Regions from separate parts of the Homo sapiens genome. Here regions 1 and 2 are each linked to region 3. The links come from fine-mapping of genetic effects on plasma protein levels. A gene starts in region 3. Each other region holds a variant in brackets. All regions are shown on one strand. Distances are between the middles of the regions.

Region 1 (8,275 bases), 370 kb before region 3:
AGCTACTCGGGAGGCTGAGGCAGATAATTGCTTGAACCCGGGAGGCAGAGGTTATGGTGAGCTAAGACTGTGCCACTGCACTCCAGCCTGGGCAACAGAGTGAGATTCCATCTCAAAAAAATAAATAAATAAATAAATAAAGTTCGTATTCTCTTCATATTTTCTTCAGTTTTTACCCAATGTCCTTTTTCTGTTCCGGGGTTCCATCCAGGATATCACGTTACACTTGGTTGTCACCTTAGACTCCTCGTGGCTGTGACAGTTTCTCAGACTGTCCGTGTTTTTTGACGGCCTTGATAGTTTGGAGGAGTAATGGGCAGGCGTTTTGTAGAACATCCTTCAGTTGAGGTTTGTCTGATGTTTTTCTCATGATTATAATAGAACAGGGTTACTAGTTTTGGTGAGGAAGACCACAGAGGCAAGTGCCATTTTCATTTCATTGTGTCAAGAGTACTTCCCACTGTTGGGGTTACTCTGGAGCCCCTGGGTGAAGTAGTTTGTAGTGTTGCCCATGGTAACATGACTCTCCCCGCCCTTTTCAATACTGTGCTCTGAGAGGAATTCGCTATGTGCTGCCCACACTTAAGGAGTGTGAGTTATCCTGCATCTCCTTGAGGGCAGAACATCTACATAAATTATTTGTAGTTCCTCTGTAAGGGAGATTTGTCTTTTCTCCTCAAGTAATTTTTCCCATCTAGTCTTTACTTGAATGAATTATTTTATTTTCACTGAACACCAACTAAAAAATAGTCTAAAGCCAATTCCCCCAAATTGATGGAATTTCCTGTAATTATTAGTATTTGGAGTGTTCTTAAGCCTGGGCATGGGGGAAATATGACAAAAACAAGGTTTCTAAAACCTGACTTAATCTTCTAGTTGAGTGTCACAGTGGGCAGATCCGGAATTAGTAATTCCTTGCTAACCCTATACGGAAAGGCCCGAAAATGAATAAGGACTTAAAAATAAAATGAGTGGGATGGTCAAAACCAATATAAATGAATTGCTGTGAGCCAAATGGAAAAGCATCCTTTGGCAAGTTTCAACCAGTTACCTCTGCATGCCCTGAGAATGTGCTTTTGGTGTTCCAGGCCACTGGGCGCCCTTTGTAGGCAGGCATCCTGCCCCTCCTCCAAAAGGAGGCAATCTCCTAAAACATGCCTCTCCTAAGACACAGATGTTCAGACTGTCCTAGAATTAACATGCTCTTAAAAATCATACACATACACACACCCTTTTATTATTATTATTATTATTATTTTTAGAATAAAAGCCATGTCTTAATTAGAATAATTTGCTGGGTAACCAAAAATCCACTTGAACTTTTCCTTGGAGAGACTCCTTCCTTGTAAAACTAAAAAGTATATGCTTTAGGGTTGCTCATTTGAAAGAAAATGGGAGAAGATTATTGTTGGATCAGCCTGTAGTTTTTATATCTGTTTGGTCAGATCAAAATTAGCCACCATTATCTTCACCCCATCAGTATATTTTTTTTCTCTGAAAGCAATTCAAACTTTGTTCCCAAAGCATGAACTTACAGACATAGGCTAGTGTTGTACATTTCTCCAAAGTTTGCCTCCAGAAGAAAAGACCTCTAATGTGCCAGCAGGTTCCTTGCACCCGCCCCCACCTTGGGTCAGGCACAGCCCAGTTGCAGCATTCCAAGGCTCTGACACATCTCCTTGGAAACCCACCCATTGCCTGGTATATAGCAACCTGCATTCCCCAGTGGTAGAGGCCTTGATTCCTGTCTTATCCTGTTCTTCTGTGCTTTCATACACATCTGAGGACAGGCCTTCATTTTGATCTATTATCTCAGGCCATTAAAATGAGCAGAAGGAAAAAAGTCCTTGAACAGCTCCAGTGTAATTGTGGTGAAGATTCTTAAAAAGAATTCTCATGGCCATTTCAGAGCCTCCTCAGTTTCCCCATTTCCTACAAATGCAGCAAATGGAGAACTGCCTTCATTACACAGAAAGTTCAGGGAAGAACATGTTGGTGTTGCAAGTGGTTTCTGGCCAACTATACCCCTGCTAACAGTATTTTTCTAAAGTATGGCACTTCATTTCCAGATTAGGCACACTCACACCTTCATTTAACAAATTAGGTGTCCTCAATGTGTCACCCACTATCTAAAGCATGATTATTATGATCTTTCTGGAAGATTTTGGATCTTGTTCATTCTTAACCATTATTTTTATTCAGCACTATAGTTAATACAGACAGTATAAGTCAAAGTTTTGCTCACCCTTTGCTCACTTGGAATTTTGGAAATCTTTGTTTATTTTTTTAAATGAGATTATTGATATGAGCTTATATTCTTGAGATATTTTTCTTTTAATTAACTCAATTGCTCAGCGGGGAGAGTGGTGGGTGGGATCCAGTCAATCTAAGGGCTTTGATTAATGTTTTATAGGTATGTAGTTTCCAAATTCTTTGCCTGCAGAGGTACACTAAAAGAATGCTAGTTTGCAGAATGCACATGGAACCACAAAAGGAAATACAGTAATCTGATATTTGGTTAGAGTAAATCAGATATCCCTATTTAAACCATTGGCTTTACAAAAATTACACAAGTGTACTTCATCAACCCCAAGCATGCACGCTAGTGTTCATGTGGGACTCAAACCCACCCTTTTGTATCAAGGAGTCTCATCAAGTGTCCATCATGTGTCTGTGTGCAGGATGCAAAGAGCCAGGACATCCATGAGTCACGATGTGTCATTCATGGCCTATGGGCTGACAAAGTGAATAAATATTTCGTTAGGCTTTATTTGAGAAATAAAACTTCAGGACAATGTACTGAAGTGGCTTCAACTGGGACAGGATTGAAAGAGAGAAAAGTGTGATTACTTAACCAAACAAATTATCTAGTAAAACACCTACTTCAGCTACTCACTACTGTGATCACATCTAGATGGTGCCATTTCAATCACGTGTACTTTTTCCACAACCTCAGTTTCAAGCACCCCGTCTCTAATCACCACCGTTGATTCTTGAAGCTCAGTCACTCGAGTGCCCAGACTTTAATAATATCTCAACCCTCTGGAGCCTACGATCCATTGAACCTGCCACCTTTGCACTTCTCCCACCTTCCTTTACCATCATAGCCCTCCTAACCCATTTTAAATTCCATGGTTAGTCATTAGAATCCATCCTTCACACACACCCACAACTTACTGCCTCACTTTGAATTCACGTTCATTAGCTTCAAGGGGTTCTTAATACTACCTGGCCATCAGATCCATTTCCCCAGTCCATTGGCTTTCCTGTTCTCCTCAAAGACCGTTTCACACTTTCCCTTTTTCTTCAAACCTTCCACTCTTCCTCCCCCATGTCACTCTGCTAATGATTTATTTCCTAAGACACACAAAAACCCAGAAGTACTCAGAAGAGAACTTCTACCACACACTTCTACAGCCACATCCCACAATTTGCCTACCTTCCCCATGATCACATATCCCATCTCAGGTCAACAGGAGGGCTCCTCCCTTGCCCTCATCAAGGACTGCACTCAGGGATTCTCTACCTGCATCGTTGGTTTTTTTCTTTCTTCTAGGATATTGCCCGCCTGCCTACAACATGCTGTTGGTTTTTCCTATCTCAAAAAAACAAAACGACTGCCTTGAACCCATGCTATACTTTAGCTTCTGCCCTATTTTTCTGCTCCCCTTTAGAGCAATACGAAAGAGTTGTCCATACTGACTCTCCCCAGTTTCTGTTCTCCTAGTCTCTCTTGAAACTGCTGCAATTAGGTTTCAAGAAACCTCTCCATGGCAATTAGGTTTTTGCCTCCATTATTCCAATGAAACTGCCTATACCTAGGTCTCCAGGGCCTTCCATGTTGTAA[A/T]CTCAATGGCCAATTCTCAGCCATAATCTTCTTGGCTCTGACAGCATCATTTAACATAACTGATCATTTCTTTCTCCTTAAAACACTTTCTTTTCTTGGTTTCCAGGACATTGTGCTCATAAGGCTTTTCTCCATGAGGCATCTCCTTCTCAGTCTACTTTGCTGAATCCTTTTCTCTCCACCTCTTAACATAGAAGTGCCCCTTAAGGTAGAAGAAGCCACCAGAAGCTCAGGCCTTGAATCTCTTTTATGTCTACGCTCACTCCTTTGATTTTCCCACCTAGTTTCAAAGCTTTAAGCATATATGCTGATGACTTTCAAATTTATGTCTTCAGCCTGCTTGCACAGCTGTCCTGAACACTATGCTCATATATCTAACTGCATAATCGAAATCTCCATTTAGATGGGTAATTAATATCACCAATGTAATACATGCAGAGCTGAACTCCTGATGTTCTGTCCCCCTAGACCTCTTCTGCCTCAGTCTTCCATACCCTTGTTCAGTCCAAGAATCTTGAAGTCATTCTTGACTCTTTTCTTCCATAGAAAATCTTGCTGTCTTACTCTACCTTCAGATCATAATCAGAATTGGATCACTTCTCATCAACCTCCACTGTAATCACGTTGATTCCAGCCCCCCCTTGTCTTTTGCATGGATGATTGTCATTGCATCCCATCTCCTCGCCCTACTTTTGCCCTTGTCCCACTTTGGTCTACCTTAACACAACTGCCAGGAAACTCCTATTATAGTGTGACTCAGGTCATGTCATTCCTTGTTATAGAGGCATCCAGTGGCATTCTATCTCATTCTGAGTAAAAGCCAAAGTCTTTGGAATGGCCTCAAGAGCCAATACTATGTGTCCTGCCCCACCTCCCACCCCATGGGTCTCACTGTCCTCCTTCTCACACAGCCCCAGCCACGGGACCACTTCCACTGCAGGACCTTTTCCCTTGCTGGTGCCTCTGCCTGGAATGTGCTTTCTCTAGATATCTACATGGGTCCAGTCTTCAATTAAATGCCATTTTCTTAAAGAGGCTTTCTCTACCATCTTGTATAAATTTGTAAGCTCACCCTACCCCCAAACATGTTCTCTCTCCCTTCCCAGCTTTATTTTTCTTCATAGAACTTTCTCCCCTGGCTGGGCGCGGTGGCTCACTCCGGTAATCCCAGCATTTTGGGGGGCCAAGGTGGGCCGATCACGAGGTCAGGAGATCGAGACCATCCTGGCTAACACGGTGAAACCCCGTCTCTACTAAAAATACAAAAATTAGCCAGGCATGGTGGCGGGTTCCTGTAGTCCCAGCTACTCAGGAGGCTGAGGCAGGAGAATCACTTGAACCTGGGAGACAGAGGTTGCAGTCGGCTGGGATTGCGCCACTGCACTCCAGCCTGAGCGACAGAGCAAGACTCAGTCTCAAAAAAAAAAAAAAAAAAAAAAAAGAGTTTAGATCTTTCAACTCAATGAAATAGCATTGTTTTGGTTGTTGTTGCTGTTTTGTTTTGTTTTCATAAAAATAAAGCTAGCACCAAGTCCTGGCTGAAAAGTCGAGGTCTATGTTCTTGCTGTTCAGTTTGTGTTCTGTTTGGAGCAGGCTCGGGTCTGAGGGCAACCCCAAAACTACCATTTCTGATATGCAATGTGATGCGGGTGGAGGCAGATGGAATTCTCTTTTAAGAAGTGATCTTGGCCAGGCGCCGTGGCTCACGCCTGCAATCCCAGCACTTTGGGAGGCCCAGATGGGCGGATCATGGGGTCAGGAGATCGAGAGCATCCTGGCTAACACGGTGAAACCCCGTCTCTACTAAAAACACACAAAAAAATTAGCTGGGCGCGGTGGCGGGCGCCTGTAGTCCCAGCTACTCGGGAGGCTGAGGCAGGAGAAAGGCGTGAACCCGGGAGGCGGAGTTTGCAGTGAGCCGAGATCGTGCCACTGCACTCCAGCTTGGGCGACCGAGCGAGACTCCGCCTCAAAAAAAAAAAAGAAGTGATCTTTAAGAATTGAGCTTTGCCTCTTCCATTTTTGAGACTAAAAGGCTTAACTAAAAAGATACTGAAGGCTCCACCCAGTCAAGCCATTCATAGTTGCCCGGTGAACACATGCTTCAGGCGCTCTTTCTTCCTTTGGCAAAAGTCTGATTCTGTAGCCTCTGGCCATGTTCTGGAGGCGGGACACTCCCACTGGGAGCCACACCCGCCTTCATCATGCAGTGAGCACACCAAACAGGTTTGCCTGGCTAGACGGTGGCTGAGGTGTCTGCGGCAGAGGGAAGTACAGTCATGCACACGCCCAGTGACGGAGCCACTGATGGACACCTCCACATGAAGGAAGCAATTGCTCTGCTCTCCCCTGGCTTAAAATAAACAGAGTAACTGCACAAAGGTGGATTTCCTGTGCGAGGAGAGCAGGGCTCAGGGACCCCTTCCCAGCCCTGTGCTTGCTTTTGAAATCCTATATTCTTTTTTTTTTTTTAAAGAGGACTCCCAAATTGTACAAGCTTCAGGCCCCACAAAAACTTTGTTTGCCATGACTATACTAAATTTTGTATATTGTTTCATATACTTACCCATTTATGTGAAGTACTTTATAAGGTAGTGTTGTTCCCATTTACAGGAAACACAGGCAAGATTGAGAGATTTAACCTGAGATCACACACCTAAATTGTCCATGAACGGTGGCTGCCACTCAGTAGGGCCTAAGGTTTACTTGAACTTGTTTTGATGTCTTTTGGTATATTTACTGGTTGTCTGATTTCAAATGCATCTCCCACATTAAAAGACTTGGCTCGCTTTTATTTTATGTTCATGGAACCATGCAGAACAAACGTGCCAAGTCCTAGCAGTAGAGAGTAATGATGAACCCCAGGAAGCCCAGCCCATTCCACCATCTCTCAGCCTGTTCACATCTATGAAGAGAAATTGCCATTTAGGCCTGTAATCCCGGCTGCCTGGGAGACTGAAGCAGGAGAATCACTGGAACCCAGGAGGCAGAGGCTGCAGTGAGCCGAGATCGGGCCACTGCACTCCAACCTGGGTGACAGAGGGAGACTCCATCTCAAAAAAAAAAAAAAAAAAATTGCCATTTAGAAAATCGTGTGAAAAGTAGAGAAACTGATGGGGAACTAAAATACTTATGTTAAGTTTTTAAAAATCAGTATCAGTCGTATCAGTCTCCACCTAGTTTTTCAGAAGGCTTTTGTCTTCCATAGATGGAACATCTTGATTAATTAACCAAGTCAATGTTTATACAATGCTTAGAGTATCTCAGTTTCTTAAGAAACTCAGAGAAGAGTTAACATTCATTGTTTCTAACTCTGTGATGAGCACAGACACATTCTGAACTTCTCTCTTCCTAATTCAAAGAGGTTGCAACCTGTTTCCTAGCAAGGGCAGCTGAAAGTAAAGATAATGTCTGGTTGAGTTCAACATGCAGACACATAGGATATACAAATGGTGAAAGCTAACACCAGGGGGAAAATTGTTAAGAACCAGTACACTAGTTACTAGATATATTAGATGTGATGAATCACTTAGGTGAGGGGCTTATTAAACCCAGACTGTTCTGAATCCTTCCACCCCTACTGTCTGATTCAGTCGGTCTAGGGTGGGGTTTGACAATGCATTTCTAAGAGGTTCCCGGGCAAGACAGATGTTGCTGGGCCCAGAGCTTCACTTTGAGAACCACCACTCTTGGAGATGTTCTGCAGTCCACAATCCTGTGCAAATACAAACTTGGTCTTATTACCTATTCAACCCTCATAAAGCTCAGTGCAAGAGCATAATAAAGCCCTCAATAGTTTTTGACAGACCTTCCTTAGAATTTAGTAAGACACCAGTAGACTACCATTGGTATGCTTTTGATGTCAACATGGTAAGATCTTTATACTCTGGGCCCTGATTAATGACTAGGCACTTTAAAGCCTCAAATAAGCAACGAGAGCTTGAAATAACCAAAAACTTGCTATGTTGTCATTGGTTTTTGTGTGTGTGTGGTTTTTTGTTTGTTTGTTTGTTTTTTGAGACCGAGTCTCACTCTACCGCCCAGGCTGGAGTGCAGTGGCACAATCTCTGCTCACTGCAACCTCCACCTCCCAGGCTCAAGTGATTCTTCTGCCTCAACCTCCCGAGTAGCTGGGACTACAGGCGCCCGCCACCACGCCTGGCCAATTTTTTGTATTTTTAGTAGAGATGGGGTTTCACCATGTTGGCCAGGCTGGTCTCAAACTCCTGACCTCAGGTGATCCACCTGCCCTGGCCTCCCAAAGTGCTGGGATTACAGGCATGAGCCACTGTGCCTGGCCGTCACTGGTTTTATGAGAACAACATCACATTACAAGAGTGGCCAACATGATCAGCCAAAAACTAGAACATGGACAATGAGCATAGGGAGCATGAGTTCTCTCTGGGAATACAGACCACAGGGCTTGGT
Region 2 (8,000 bases), 340 kb before region 3:
TGGTATTACACGCATACACACCATGCCCAGCTAATGCATCTTTAGTAGAGATGGGTTTCGCCATGTTGGCCAGGCTGGTCTCAAACTCCTGACCTTAGGTGATCCACCCGCCTTGGCCTCCCAAAGTGCTGGGATTACAGGCATGAGCCACTGCTCCCGGCCTACTTTATTATATGTACATATACTAACATGGGCAACAATTCTACAAATATTAGAAAACGTCATTCATTTGGAATTTTGTGATCATTTCAGTGGGGCTGAATTTATGAATAGCATTCTAAAACTGAGATGAGAATATTTTCCAAAAAAATTATTGGTATACATTTATAAGAGAAAATGTTTATAATTCTTCAGAAAAACTACTTTTAAATTTAATTATTTGAGAGTAATGTACATATAAAATTGTGTATGCCAGCAAGAAATCATTTACCTAGTTAAAAACAAATCCCATGCCTAATCTTTATTAACAACAATCTGCTAGTTTCATTCAGTTACTACAGTCTTAAATAAGTTAAAAATCTAAAAATATTATGGTTTTGAGAAATATAAATATGATTTGTCTTCAAACCATTGTATTCTAATATTCAAAGTGAATATTCTAATGTCAAAGTAAAAGGAAGAAAAGAGTATACACAGCTGATAATATCTTAGAAAAGAGAGCAAAGTGTGCAAAAGTGGGTTATGTAGAAAGTGTTTATGGGTTATGGGATAAGACAATACACACACACACACACACACACACACACACACCCCATAACAGAAGCCACAACTTAACCATTAAACAGGGATCTAGAAGTTACCGTTCAGCAAGCTTTCGAGCCTCTTCTGCCAAAAGAGTCATGTTGTTTGGGTCCCCTGTAGATTCTGGCTGAGTGACTGACTGCACAGGAAATAAAGCACTTATTCTCAAAGGACTGAATTATTTACATTTAATAAAGCAAGAGTCAAAACTAAATTTTTGTTAGAGGGCAAAAAGAATGCCTCTACCTTTTTTTTTTTTTTTTTTGAGATAGTTTCACTCTTGTTGCCCAGGCAGAAGGGCAATGGCACAATTTCAGTTCACCGCAACCTCTGCTTCCTGGGTTCAAGTGGTTCTCCTGCCTTAGCCTCCCAAGTAGCCGGGATTACAGGCATGCACCACCATACCCGGCTAATTTTGTATTTTTAGTAGAGACGGGGTTTCTCCATGTTGGTCAAGCTGGTCTCGAACTCTCGACCTCAGGTGATCCACCCGCCTCGGCCTCCCAAAGTGCTGGGATTACAGGCGTGAGCCACCGCGCCTGGCCCCAAGAATACCTCTTCTTATTTTCAGAGATCTTTATTTAATATCAGCACCCTTGATTGCAGATTCTATTTTCAGTAAAGGATAAAGGAAGATTAAACTGCCTAGTTCCATAGAAGGAACAAAGCTAGAGAAATAACCCAGATGTCCCTTGGTTTTTATCCAGTTTTTAATAACTGTTTCATGCCAACTATGAGCAATGTGGCTTTTCTGCCCCATATTTAGGGACAAATAAAAAGATGCATGGAGTCAATTTAGTTGAAGAAGCACTCCACTGCCAGTAACAGACTTGCTACAAACCCCAGGGGCCTCCCCCATCCCCACCTCAGACGTTTGCAATCACTTACCACATTGGCAGCAGCGACTTTTGCTTTCTCAAGTTCTCTGGATGCGATTTCAATCAACCGCTCTGTGTTCTCTACATGGGCACGCGCTTGTTCAGCCAAGTTTCCAGTCTCTTCAATGGTATTCCGGATATTCTGTAAACGGCTAATTTGGCTGGACAGAGTGTTATTCACTCTCTGTAGGCGATCCATCAAATTCTGGTCAACATCTAAAATGGTTTGCAGAAGAAAGTCTGTAAATTATCTGAAGAGGATCATATCATCTCACATGAAATCTGAGGCCCTATGTATCTCTACTCTTCTAAACATCGCAACTTTCTGCCAGGTTTCCACAAAGCCCCTGCCATAGCTGGACAGCCTTTACCACACCCAGTAGGTCCTTCACTGTGCACTCATCACACCTCCAACCGTGCGTCCATCTGTCCACTTGACTACGAACTCTTTCTTACTCACCACTATATCGCTGGTCTTATGCAGTGGTTGGCAAAGAGAAGACACCCAAGGAATGTTTAATGAAGGTGAGAATGACTGACTTTAATACCAGCACATGCAATTTAGTCATAAATCTACAATGTTGTTAAAAATGCTGCCAGCCCTAAAAGCCGAACATTTTTCAAAACCCAGAAAAAACTAGGTTTAAAACATAAGTTGAAGTATGACAAATTAAACTCATTTTGTATTTTAAACTAAATAGACTCTTTTGCCACCCCCATGTGCCAGCATATCAGTGTAATTTCTTTCAAACTGATCTCTGTTTTTGAATAGTTCTTCAAATTATTCTTTATTAATATGCTCATTCAACTTAAATCTCATACTCAGGTCCTAACAAATCAAAAGATAAATATAAGTCTGTTATTATTAAAACTCTCATGTATCATGAGGTTTTATTAATATATAAAAACCATTAAGTAAATTGACCAATTCATATTTCAGCATCATGCTCGGTGTTGGGGTCTAAATTTTCTAAGGAATGTGGGAAAAAAAAAAAAAGATGAGAAGTCAAAGGTAAGACCAATGAAGATGAATACAGGTTTGGAAAAAACCAACTTGGAACTTGGCTACCAAATGTATGTGCAGAGGTGACATTCTACAAACTCTTGCCTAACTATATATGGTGGTCCTGCTTGGAAGGTTACTCAATTATTTGATAATGTAAAAATTTTTTGGCTGGGCGCAGTGGCTCAAGCCTGTAATCCCAGCACTTTGGGAGGCTGAGGTGGGCAAATCACGAGGTCAGGAGATCGAGACCATCCTGGCTAACACGGTGAACCGCCATCTCTACTCAAAATACAAAAAAATTACCCCGGGCATGGTGGGCATGTGCCTGTAGTCCCAGGTACTTGGGAGGCTGAGGCAGGAGAATCACTTGAACCCAGGAGGTGGAGGTTGCAGTGAGCCAAGATCGCGCCACTGCACTCCAGCCTGGGCAACAGAGTGATTGTGGCTCAAAAAAAAAAAAAAAAAAAAAAAGCTTATGAAGACGCATGCCTTTAATGATTTTTAAAACTATTTTAATATTTTAAGACACCTTGTAATAGAACAGATTCATAAAATGCTTGAAATTTGAATATCGAATAGTTTTTTATTTGTTGGAAAATCACCCTATGCTTACTGTAGCTTAAAGCAGTAAATTTGTCAGGTTGCTTTTTGAATTAGTGTTTAAAAAATGAAATGATTTATAATCTATGAGTAGTTTAAAAACTGAGAAAGAATTTTATAAAACTATACTAACCTTGCTTTAGGAGCCACATCTAAAGATTGGTCCATCTCACAGAAGTCATGCACTGTTCAATCATGCGTACCTTTGACATCCTGGGCCTCACGAAGGAGGTCCATAACTTCCCTCTCTGCTTCCTTTAGTCTATCCTCGAAGGCTTGATCTGTCACCATCTCATCCCCAGTTCCAAGGTTTGCTATGAGACTCTCTAATTCCTGGAGCTTCACTCTATGATCAGCAACCTAAACATAAAGAAGAAAGAAAAGGGAAAGGTAGGACACACAAGTATTCCTGAAGAACTCAATCACACTTCCTGCAGGAATCATGGGCACTCCATGAATATGTAGTTCTTTTTTTTTTTTTTTAATTATTATTATACTTTAAGTTTTAGGATACATGTGCACAACATGCAGGTTTGTTACATATGTATACATGTGCCATGTTGGTGTGCTGCATGAATATGTAGTTCTATCCACTCCATGCATGTCTACTTCTGAAGAGAAGACGTGGCTAGTTTATTTTTCCAGCTTCAAAAAAAACCTTCAGAGCTGTTCCTTTGACTTTAAAGACTGTATGCTGATGAGTCTTAAGCTCTGACCTCTCCCTTGAGTGTCAGATTACCTTCGTGATACCTCCACTCAGCTCTCTGATAGGTATCTCAAACTTAACATCCAAAATTATACCTCTTACCTCTATTCTCTCTGAGGAATCTCCATCTCAGTAAATAAGGCCTCCAGCTACCTTAAGCAAAAAACCCAAGACACATCCTTATTCTTCTCTTTTCCTATCCTGTCCCCAAACACGCATATTTATCCAATCCAATTGAGGCTTCCCATTAAGCCCCATTCCTAACCATCATTCTTCACACATCAGTCAAGAGTGCTCCTCTTAAAATATAATCTGGATTTCCCAGATTTTAAGAGTTTCTTCAATGCATTCTTATTGGATTTGGGATAAAATCTAAACTTCTTACTATGGTCATCATGTTCCCATATAACCTGTCCGTACCAACCTCTCCCGTCTTAAAAAACAGAACACACCCTCTGCACTCAGCAGGCTCCAGCCACTCTCCAGCTTTCAGGCCTCTGTATACCAGGTTCCTTCTGCCTGGAACAAACCTACCATTACTTTTCACTCGGCTCATTCCTTTGTATCCATCAGATCTCACCTTAGATGAATTCTGTAGAGAGGCCTTACATAAAGTAGTTTCCCCCAGTTATTCTCCATTTGTATTCTTCCTGGCACTTATCTCAGTGTTTGTTTTGTTTATTTATTTATTTTTTATTATTTGCCTCCCAACTGGAACATAAGTCTTTAAGAACAGGGACCACATCTACCTTGTTCACCACTTTTTCTATAGAGATTAGTGCACAGTAAGTTGCCACTCAACGTCTGCTGGATGAATGAATGAATGCACTATTGACAGCTTACCTTATCCTTTACCAGCCGGTAACAAGCTGGACATTCCTGGCAGCCAGGCCAAGACCGATTGTAGAAATAGTTTTCTTCACACTGGTCACAGCGATTTCCCACAAAGCCTTCTCT[G/A]CATTCACAGCGACCATCATCTTTGCACTGAAGTGAAAGAGATCCCTCAGGATGACAGTCACAGGCTGCAGAATAAGGAGAAAATAATACATAATTAGCAAAAGAAGGAAGAGTATATCTCTTAATTCAGACTGATAACAATAAGCTGACTATAAGCTGACTATACTGTCATAATTTTTTTGAAAAACAGGACTATTTATGAGATCTTAAATGGCTAAGTCTGTTTAGCAGAGAAAACTGACATTTTTAAAAGTCAAAATGAGCTTTAAAGTAAAACGTGCAACCTTTGGGACACACTTCAGGTTACTTAGCAATTAGAGAAGTTATGAAACTATCAGTGCTCGTTTCATGCACTTCAAGGATTCATCTCTACCTTCAATTCTCCACTGTTTAATATTTCTCTAAGGAACTAGAAAACCCAAATGCTAATGCTTCTTTTGCATTATCTTATAGTTTGTTTATTCACTGTGTTCTCTGAACTGAGTCAATTACTTATGCTACATTCCACAGGAGAAATGAAGGAATTCAGAAAGCAAAAGCCAATCTGTTCTGAGGCCCAATTCCAGGCAAGTGTTTATGCCAAGGAGAAGCAGATGTTTACACGTAATCATACCAAAAGGGCCCCAAGGGTGGGAAGCAACTACAGCAAGTCAACAAACATGTTGTGAACAGAATCCTCCACTATTTCATTATCTGCACTAAGAATGCAATCAATAAAGAAGTTTCATGAACCACAGTGGGAAAGCTCAGTAATCAAAGGAAGACTTCCTTGGAAAAAATAAAAGATTGGAAAAAGGAAGCATCAGAAACGTTGTAAAAGAAAACATACAAAGAAACCAGAGAAGGCTTTGATCTGCAGAGTTTTAGAAATGGATAATATTCTTCAAATAAAGCATCTACGATGACTTAGGTACAGCCCTGACTATGAGTCAAGTGGCTAGACTGAGGCTGTCAAAGTCCTTTCTGGCCTTAAGACACTAACTGGAATTAGTGGAAGCTTAGAGTTGTATGCCACCAACACCCCTTACGTTTGCAGCCTTCAGGTCCAAACCCAAAGTGGTTGACCTCACAGCGCTCACAGTGCTGACCAGTGATGCCGGGCTGGCACTCACACTGGCCGGTGCGGATGTCACACTGCCCATTGGTGGAGCCCAAGGCATGGCAGTCACACCTGAAAATGAACACAGGACATTTCTCAGGCAAGAAAAACAGACTTTAAGCACAACTTTTTTTTTTTTTTAGTATAGCACTGATGTAATTTGTAACTTGTATCAGAAAACTGAATGGTAAGGGTTACTAAGATGGAATGTTAAGGGTTATTAAGCCCCTAAGGTTCAAGTAATTTTCATGAGTGCTATTCAGAACCTCTTTTCCTAACTTAACTGCTACCAGTGCTCTCCAGCCTGGGACTGTATGGACACTAAGTAGCAGCTTTGAAAACAGAAGTTCCCAGGCTGCAACCCTGAAGGGTCTGATTCTAAGTGCCTCAGAAAGGACCCGGCAATTTGTGCTTTTAAAAGGTTGCTCAGGTGATTCTGGCACAGCTGGGGCCACTGTGCTCCACTCCTTTCTTTCATTAGCTTTATTACAATTCTCCAGCACTGCCCCTGAAGGATGCCTTGCCTACATTAGGCGCTCCAGTAATTTCTGAACAGTCAATTATTAAATGTACTTATAAAAATTCATTTTTTATAACAGAAAAAGCAAAGATTACTTTCACCAAAGGCACCTATGTCTCACCTCTCACAGCCTTGCCCACTCTGCAGATTGTAGAATCCAGGGTCACAAGCACCACAGTCCTGGCCAGTCACGTGAGGCAAACATTCACACTGCCCCGTCACGGGGTTACAGCTGCTCTGCTGCTTCATGGTCCCATACAGATTGCAATTGCAGGCTAAGGCAGGAAGACAGAGATGGCAAAAGACACAAATCACCTGAGAGAAATACTAAAATATAAACAACCTAAAGAGATTCTTTAGACCTGTGTTGCCAGGTTGGTAGCTGCTGTCACATGTGGCTACTGAGCACTTTAAATGTGGCTGGTGAGTCTGAATTGAGATGTGCTATAAACGTGAGATACACACTGGATTTTGAAGGCTTAGCGTGAGAAAAAACATATATTTCATTAACAATTTTTATTGATTACTTATTGAAATCATATGTTGGATATATTAAATAAAATACATTAGTATTCATTTCACCTGTTTCTTTTTACAGGACCACAGGTGTCAGCCACCATGACTGTCCTTCTTTATACTTTTTTAATGTGGTGACTAGAAAATTTTAAAAGACAAAAGCGGTTCACAATGTATTTCTATTGGACTAAACAACTATACATATTTTAAGAGACACACAAGAATTCTCACAATAAAGGGGCATTTAGCTGTGACAGAATCTGATCAAAGGCTGATTACCTTTGCATTTGTCTGCTGGATTGGGAGCCAGGGGATTTCCAAAAAATCCGTCTTTGCACCGGTCACAATAGAAGCCAGCAGTGTTATAGATGCACTTCAGGCATTCTCCCGTCAAGCGATTGCAATTTCCAACTGCATTGGGATCGATGTTGTCACTGCACTGGCACAGGCGGCAAAGTCTCACAGGGCCGTTTCTACCCAGGGGGTCTCCAAAGTAGCCATCATCACAGAGCTCACATCTCTTACCTGGGGATGAGACAATCTGATGTTATGAAAGAAAGGCCTTAGACATTTTTGGTGCTAGATTACCACTGGCTACAGGTAATCTAGTGTAATCATCACATGAGAGAAGACATGGTGCAGTGGAGGGCAGAGGACCTGGGCTGCAGCCCTGGCACGGGGCCAGACCACCAGAGTGACCTTGAGCACATCTCTATTTCCTCACTAGACAGGAAGCACCTGGTCTGCCTACTTCACTTTAATTGTTGTGACAATCAACCCAAATCATGTATTAAAAGTGCTCGGTAAATGAGTCAAGCCCAAGGTTTATAAACTTCTCCAGTCTCAAAGGATGGCACATTCATATATGTTGTTTTGGCAGATGATATTAAAAGAGGTGAAGTGCCACTCTTGACACTGTAAGTTTCCCACACAACAGGGTGAGCAGAACCATTCTCTTAAAATGTAAGAGGCATGTG
Region 3 (8,275 bases):
GGCAAAGTCCATTTCTAGTTTAGAACTGTAAAATGTGCTTACAAGTACACAAACACACAGAGCAAGTACAAGATGGTAAAATTTTAGTGCTTAATTCTATTGAGGAGGAAACTTTAAGACAGGAGAGGGTAGACTTGAGAAAATACTACGTGGACAGTCTCCCATTTTAGCTATACAGATGATGGAAGCAATCTAACACCTCAAAGGATAGAGGTTAACAGCAGCAGACCCAAGAAAGAGCTTGAACCTAACTCAGGTAAGTAAAACATACAGTGAATTATAGTCATGCCTCAGTATACACAGAAGATCAGTTCCAGGACCTTCGTGTATACCAAAATCCATGCCTACTCAAGTCACACAGTCAGCCCCAAGCCTGGCATATGAGAATTCTGCATCCTGCAAATACTGATTTTCTATCCGTATTTGGTTGAAAAAAATCTGTGTAAATGGACCTGCACACTTCAAATCAACGTAATTCAAGGGTCAACTGTACTATTACTTAAACTGAAATATGGTCATAAAAGGGGACATTTTCTCTTTCCATTGTCTTCATTCTTAGAATCTCACCTAAAACAAGCCTGTCTTAAGGTTTCATCATGATTTACATAACTACCTTCAGATTTACCTATCTTTTTATATCCTAATTTTGCCCAGTTTTGTCCAGTTTTCCTAGTTCTAGTTAACCATGTAGACTGCATATTCACCTCCCTCTTCCCCACTACAGCAGGCTCCCAGGACAGGGATGTTTCATTTGCCTTTGCTCTCTGCAGTGAGCCCTCTGCTTGACACCAGGTGTTCAATTCAAGAGCGAAGAATATGTGGGTGACTGAACGAGGTGTTCAGACTGTGACTGGATGATGGCTTCCACAGATGGGTAGCGCACTGCTGGAAGAGTCCAACTCACACCACTCATTTGGGGCCAAAGGATCTCTCACCATCTGGCAGAGAGTGTACCTGCCCATAATCAGTGTAAAAGACTCTGGATGGGCCACAAGAAGCAACAGAGCAGACTGGTTAACAGCCTCAGTTCCATAGGCAGACCACCTGGTTCAACTCACAGCTCTGACATTTGCTAGTTCTAGAAGCATTATTGTTTTTTGAGCTATAAGACATAAAAAGCCACAAATGCAATTTCAGACCACAAATTTAATGTCTAACAATTGAAAATGAAAATAAAATATAATCAGATAGTATTTGATGACAATTCTACAAAAGATAGTGGTCTTGTAGCAAATAAAGTGATGTCTGTAGGTGACCAACAAGAAGGGTTATGCTATAGTTCTGACATTACTGGCACATTCAAAAATGCAATGCCCACTATACTTAAATCTAACCCACATAATGTAGTACTTAGTTATAAGCTATCTTGTTTTGTTTGCTCTTCTAATTGTTCATCTTATCTTCCCAAATAGGAGAATAAACTTCTGAAGTACAGAGACCATATCTTCTATTTTTCTTCCCCAAGAGTCTTGGCTCAGGTAAGCCCTTGAGAAACACTGACTGTTTTCAGTAGAAAGACAACACGATACTTTCCTTGCAAACAGACATGTTCTCAGCAAGAGTTGCTCCTAAAATCAAGACCAAGTCCTGCATGTAGCTTTGCTCTGTATTTCCTAGTTCAAACATGAGACTAAAAGCAGATTGGAAGTTTAGAAAGATGAATCCAATAACCTGGCCCATGGGAAAACACAAGATAATAAATCATAAGATGTGGCTCTAATCACTCTTTGAGCTTCATGTGACCACCCTCAGTACAATAAGCAGGCCACTTAGCCTCTGAGCCTTAAAGGCCCATAACCTAAGCCATCTCCCCACTGGAGGGATGTTTAAGTATCAAAGGAGATTGATGCTATGCCTGCTGTATATCTTCACCTAGCACTCCCACAAACATCTCAACTTAACATGCCCAAAGGGACCTGCCATCTCCTTTGTTCCTTACTGTAGAGGGGTGAGAGGGCCAGCTCTGGAGTCAGACCTCATGGATCTGCATCCTGGCTCCACCACTTACCAGGTAGGTGACCTTGAGCCCATTAAGTAACCTCTTTCTGCTTCAGTTTCCCCTTCTGTAAATGAGGATAATAGTAATTATATTTCATAGGGTTGAGAGAATTAAATGAACTAATTCATGTAAAGTGATTAACAACAATGCTAGGCACATAGTGAGTACGTGTTCAGTGCTCTCCATGAAGTCTTGCCTGATGTGTATAGGACAGTAGAAAATACTATCATGCCCTTACCAGCATCATCTTCCCAGTCATCTCTGCTCTGCTAGTGCCTCCTTTCCAACACTCACTACTCTTGTCTATTTAGGGACTAAGTCATTTCAATTCTGTTATCTTCTTCCCCTGCTATTCCTCCTTTCGCCTTTATAATTTTTCCCTTCGTTACCTCTTATCTAGACAAATAGGCAAAACCCCAGGTCCACAGGGCCCAAGAAGGTTCAAGTGATAAGAGTCCTGAGAGCTTGAGTCAGCATTAAACACCTCCTAAATCCAACACTACTAGGCTGTTCAGGCTAAATAAAACTCCGTAGTCTTGTGCTTTTGCCTGCATTTATTTGATACTAAGGACGGTAACACTGATGTTCTTAGAATCATCAGAAGCTCAAATTGGCAGTTTTATATGTCTTTAATGGAAAGAAATAAAACTAATTACCACAAATGTAGTTTGATTAGTTCAAAAATTCAAAACAAGGGGCCGTTGGGAGTGTAGGATAGGGGTTAGGAATCACTGTCCTAATCCCTCTTCTCTTCTTCAATCCACACCAGCTGTCAGATTAATCTTCCAGTAACACCAGCATTTCTGGTCTTGTCTTTGTCCTGTTTAGAAAATGCCAGTAGGCTAAAGAACCAGCTCCCTGGGGTCTGGGTCTCTATTGAAATCTTCGTGCCTGCACTATACTTGCCCAGCTGAACAAACTGTTTGCTGTTCCTCCTATCTACCTTTCACTGTCTGTCTGCTTGCCTTTGTTCCTGTGGTTCTCTCACTTCAATCTCTTCGGTCTGATCAACTTTTAAAGCTCACTTTATCCATTCCAGCAGGTATAGCTTAAAAACAAAAACAAACAAAAACCAAAAAACCTCTCATTTTAAAAACCAGGGGATTTCCTGATACCCCAGCCGAAAATAATTTCTTAAACCTCAGAATTCCCCCAAACAGTGGCTTTTCATTAAAAACCTTACATCAGAGTTATTAAGCAGGGTGGTTTTGGCTCCTCTCCTAGACTGTCTGCCATCTGGGGGCAATGGCAGCTTGGAAAATTTCTTTGCACAGATAACTACACTACGTAAAAGTTTGCTGCCTTTGCAAACTTTGAAACGCCTACAGGAAGAAATGGGATAAAAACGACTTTGGCCGGGCGCGGTGGCTCAAGCCTGTAATCCCAGCACTTTGGGAGGCCGAGGTGGGCGGATCACCTGAGGTCAGGAGTTCGAGACCAGCCTGGCCAACATGGCCAAACCCCGTCTCTACTAAAAATACAAAATTAGCCGGGCGTGGTGGCGGGAGCCTGTAGTCCCAGCTACTCGGGAGGCTGAGGCAGGAGAATGGCGTGAACCTGGGAGGTGGAGCTTGCAGTGAGCCGAGATAGCGCCACTGCAGTCCGGCCTGGGCGACAAGAGCGAGACTCCGTCTCAAAAACAACAACAACAACAACAACAACAACAACAACAACAACAACAAAAGACTTTAACAGAGAATGATCAGTATTTTTAAGATTCAAGTTTTTAATAAACTTGGGAATGTTATGCTTTGAAGCATAACAGATAATTATCATTATTTTTAAGATTCAAGTTTTAGATAAACTTGGGAATGTTATGCTTTGAAGTTTTCAGAGCTCGTAGCTAAAGCGAATAGCTCAAATGTTCTCCAGCCTAAGGCTTAATGTGAATTTAGATTATTACTGAAACATTGGGAGGGGGTATTACTCTTGAAATCTTATACCTCCATCCACAGATAAGAACACTCAGTGCAAAGAATTAAAGCTGCCTAAGTCAAATTCTTTTTTAAATGGCAAAGTTGTTTTTTTAAGAGACAGAAAGTGAGGGCAGAATGTACCTCTGGGCAGAGAATATCTTGAGGGACAGGTACTCGGAGAAGAGGAGATACAAATAGGGATTTTTAAAAAAGCAGAAAACCACCAATTTCTCCTCAAGTGAAGGGGGGATGTATCAGGTTTAACTTTAAGCTCTCTTCTGCTCAATTGCTAACTCTATTTTGAGGAAAGGACCTTTGGAGACCCGGCAGATATGCTGTCTGCAAACAATCCGGGGGAGTAAGTTCTTCTGCCCCCGTCTGTCCCTACACTTTTCGCATTCACACCTTCCCCAGATCCGTTTCCCAGCGTATCTGCCTTCCCTCTTTCCTCCGGGTCCGTCAACGTCTCACCCACCCGCGAGTCAGGCCCCAGCGCCCCTCCGCCCGAACGCCCAGGTCGTCGGGCCGTCTGCGTCCGTCTGTCCTAGCCCGTGCCGTCGCGGGCCGCGCTCACCCAGGCCTCCGCTCTTGTCCGTGCAGCCGCTCCGCCCGGCAGCCGCCGCCGCGCTTTATATCCGCGGCCGCCCGGCTCGGGCCCACGTGCCGCCACGCCAGGGAGCCTGGGGGTTGTAGTTCTGCGCCGCCGCCCGCGAGGCGCGCCCGGAACCGCTGGCCCGGAAACCCCGAAACGTTTTGCACACTGGAGTCTGCTCTTCCCCGGGTGTCACCTGAACAACATGGGCTGAAGTGACTCCGGCGCAGCGCCCCGGCTCCCCGAGGATCGGAAGCATCCGAACTGGCGGCCGGGTGCCCGAGAGCACGCGGCTCACCCGCGCCACGCCGAGTGCAAACCTCCCCCTGCCTCGTCTGCACGCCAGTCCTTCCCGCGTGCGGGCACCTCCTGGGCTCCGCTGCGTCTTAATTTTCCTTCTCTTGCGCAGGGCTCTGCAATCCCCACTATCTCGTGGTTCTGCGTTGTGAGGTTTGGGCTGCTGTTTCCGAGGCGTACGGAGAATCCCAACTGCCCATCGGCGTTCAGGTCTCTTCGGGTTGACGCCGCTGCACCAGCCCTGCAGACTCTCGTGTTAAAGAGAGATGAGCGAATTTTAAAGTGAATTATCTACTCATACGGGAGCTTTCCTGGCTTCTTTTGGAGAACATTTGAAAGAGTTTTGAAAGGGAAAATTATTTTTAACCCAACCGCCTCTACTTTCAGGAGTATCAGGAGTCTTATTCTAGGATCATGTACTGTGTGAATAAATCAGGAACAGAGCCAGAGACAAGTCCTCAGTTTTCTCTTGCTGATGTGATTCCACCTCAATTTTCCATAAAAGGCGATGGCTGATGCTTATTATTACATTTAGAGAAACTAAATTGTTCAAAGGGCTTTCTAGTTTGCAAAGTGCTTTTAAATGTATTCTAATAGTTCTTTCGTTGCACAGAGCACCAGAGATAATAGCTAATAAGTACTGTGTTCAGTGCTTACTCAGCCTGCACCGTTCTAGCTGTTTTAACATTTAATTCATAAAATAATCCCATTGGTGGGTCCTGTTTTATAAATGTATATATTACAGATGAGCAAGGATCATTCCATTTTACAGATCAGAAACAGGTTTAAAGAGTTGAAGTAATTTGCCAAAAGCCATAGAGCTGGTTAAGCTGTGGTTTGATTTCAAGTAGTCCAGAAGCTTGTGCTTTTAACACTATGTTATCCTACAGGAAAAAAAAATACAAAAAGAAAAGAAAAAGAAAAACCCTTAGTTACATGAAGCAAGTTCTCCTAAGGCTGCAGCATGGTTTTTGTTTTGGTTTGGTTTTTGTAATATTAACAAGAATATTATATCCTAATGGTACAATGAAAGTTTTTTTTTTTTTTGGAAAGTCACAGTTTAATAAGTGCAAAATTAAGTATGTCAGTACCCAAAAGGTATAGGTCATTAGGCTTAACATTGTCAACCAACAAACCAATATTCTAAATGCATGAACTAACTACTTTTTGTATAAATATGGTAGTGCAAAGTAATTCCTTATAATAATTTGTTAGTGTCTACCAAGAAGCAGATGCTAAGATGGGATTAGATGTGCAAGAAACTTACTGGGGGAGGGATTTGGAGCAGACAGGAGCAGCCTGCAGACTGATGTAGGGCTGACATCTGTGGAACAAAAGATGGAAGAAAGGAGCATGGAGTAGGGAGAGTCTCACTGCATTCTTACAGTATCCACTCTGTGCCGTTATGAAACTCAGAGCCTATACTGTGAAGTGTTGGGGAGACGTTGTTTTAAAATATGGTAAATGCAGTGATAGACTGTACAGAGATATTACAGGAACACTGAGCTCTAATCTGGGCTGAAGGGGGTGGTGTGTGTGTGTGTGTGTGTGTGTGTGTGTGTGAAGAGGCAGGAGGGTGTTCCAGAAACGTCTTACTGGGGAAGGTCACAGCCAAGCTAAATATCAGACAATGAGTAGGGCTTAGAAGAAGAGAGGCAACAAAAGGCTCAGTGCTGAACTGCAGGCCTCTAACCCCCTTCTGATAAGCGGCAGTCTCTGTGAGATTTCTTCTATTATTATGTAGTATTATTTAATCATTAATTTTCTTGCTTTTGTTTCTTGCCCCCAACTCCACTGCAAGGTGTTCAAGGCAGGCATCATGTCCTATTCCTTTGTTTTTCCCACAGTGCAGGACATAGTGTCTATCCAAGTGCAGGCCAAGAGGGTGAGATTTAGAAATATTACTACCATCAACTCTTCTTTGTTTAAAACAAATGTATGTCAGGGTTTTGTATCAGATTTTGTTTGCTACAATTCAAATTTGAAACCCACTGGTGCAGGGGAAAGAGCTTGGGAGATATGGTGCAATGAACTTGGTCAGAACAGTCATATGTTCTATCCTTGGAGCTGGAGGTGATGCCCCCATCACAGGCTCCTGAACTGACTGTGGGTGAGGGGTGGTCCCCCAGAAAGTTTCCCCTTATCTTCTGGTAAGGCTATACTAACCTGAAAAGAGAAAATGGGTTTTCAACAACTGAAACACTGCTAAATTGCGGAACACTTATGAAGGAAGGAGACCTAAGTTGGATCTTGAAGTGTTGTTACCCATTGTGTTCCAGTAAAAGGTCTGTCCACAGGTGGACAAGAGTCTGTTCCATTCACTGTGAAGAATGCGTAACCGGGTATGAGAGTCACTTCTGGAAATTCTGGCTTGTATGGGTGTGTCAATGGGGCTGATGGAAAAGGTAGGGTTTATTTTTTCATCAGAGTCCAGAGGTCTTCAGAGAAGGGAACAGGCCACGAATAGAAGTTGAACTGATTGCTGGCCCTGAGACAAAAACCCTTGTCCTTTAGGGTTTATCTTCTGAGCGTGAGTGCTAACTAGGAGAGGGACATCTCTTGAGAAGGGAAAAGTCCTGTGCATAAGCTTGGGTTCAGAAGATCCTTTGGGATCCCAGGAGGGGGCAGCATAGTGCGGCCATGCTCAGCTGTCTTTTGGCTTAGCCCTTTAGTGAATGCTTACTGGGTTCTTAAGGAGAAAGAGCTAGAAGGAAAAAAATGAGTTGAACACAAGAGATATACTTCCATATTTGGCATTCTTAAACCTAAGATCTGTGACTCCAGATTTTTAAGTAACGACTTTATTGACATATATTTCACTATGATACAATTCATTTAAGTGTATAATAGTTCAGTAGTTTAGTCTATTCACAGAATTGTGCAACTTGTGTCACCATTTTAGAACATTTTCATCACTCCCTCCAATAAAACCCTAGCCATTAGTAGTCACTCATTTTTCTATTTCCCCCTCCCCACCCCCAGCCATAAGCAGCCACCAATCTATTTCTTTCTTTCTTCTTACTTTTTTTTTTGGTTGCCCAGGCTGGAGTGCAATGATGCAATCTTGGCTCACCACAACCTCTGGCTCCCAGGTGATTCTCCTGCCTCAGCCTCTGGAGTAGCTGGGATTACAGGCATGCGCCACCATGCCAGGCTAATTTTGTATTTTTAGTAGAGGCGGGGTATCTCCATGTTGGTCAGGCTGGTCTCAAACTCCCAACCTCAGGTGATCCGCCCACCTCAGCCTCCCAAAGTGTTAGGATTACAGGCGTGAGCCACTGTGCCTGGCCGCCACTAATCTATTTCTATAGATTTGCCCATTCTGGACATTTCATATAAATGGAATTATATGGTGTGTGTGTGTGTGTGTGTGTGTGTTTTGAGACGGGCTCTCACTCTGTTACCTAGGCTAGAGTGCAGTGACATGACCACAGCTCACTGTACCTTTGACCTCCCAGGCTCAAGCTATCC

Direction of the effects. Positions count from the first base shown, and alleles are read on the strand shown. Strength reflects both the effect of a copy and how common the allele is.
For the plasma level of the protein whose gene starts at base 4,522 in region 3, allele A in region 1 goes with a lower level than allele T (moderate association).
In carriers of allele G in region 2, the plasma level of the protein whose gene starts at base 4,522 in region 3 tends to be higher than with A alone (strong association).

What was found. PIP is the chance, under the fine-mapping model, that this variant and not a neighbour inherited with it causes the effect. Protein levels are from antibody-based Olink assays in UK Biobank. Linkage for the fine-mapping came from a reference panel and not from the study's own genotypes, which makes the PIPs less certain.
Region 1: its variant is fine-mapped to the plasma level of the NPL protein (UK Biobank, PIP above 0.99).
Region 2: its variant is fine-mapped to the plasma level of the NPL protein (UK Biobank, PIP above 0.99).

The regions. Positions count from the first base shown.
Region 1 is chr1:183,157,946-183,166,220 of GRCh38, reverse strand. No RefSeq gene overlaps it. Among named protein-coding and RNA genes, the nearest start is that of LAMC1-AS1, 21 kb to the right of the region's middle. RefSeq lists an enhancer at 6,606-7,107. The variant A/T (reference allele first, on the strand shown) is at 3,848.
Region 2 is chr1:183,124,179-183,132,178 of GRCh38, reverse strand. LAMC1 (laminin subunit gamma 1) reads right to left here. Exons shown (of 28, transcript NM_002293.4): 14 at 7,303-7,548; 15 at 6,629-6,782; 16 at 5,917-6,059; 17 at 4,775-4,953; 18 at 3,429-3,585; 19 at 1,630-1,835; 20 at 801-880. Among named protein-coding and RNA genes, the nearest start is that of LAMC1-AS1, 13 kb to the left of the region's middle. The variant G/A (reference allele first, on the strand shown) is at 4,889.
Region 3 is chr1:182,786,020-182,794,294 of GRCh38, reverse strand. NPL (N-acetylneuraminate pyruvate lyase) reads right to left here and starts at 4,522. Exons shown (of 13, transcript NM_030769.3): 1 at 4,490-4,522; 2 at 2,009-2,063. RefSeq lists an enhancer at 4,369-4,869.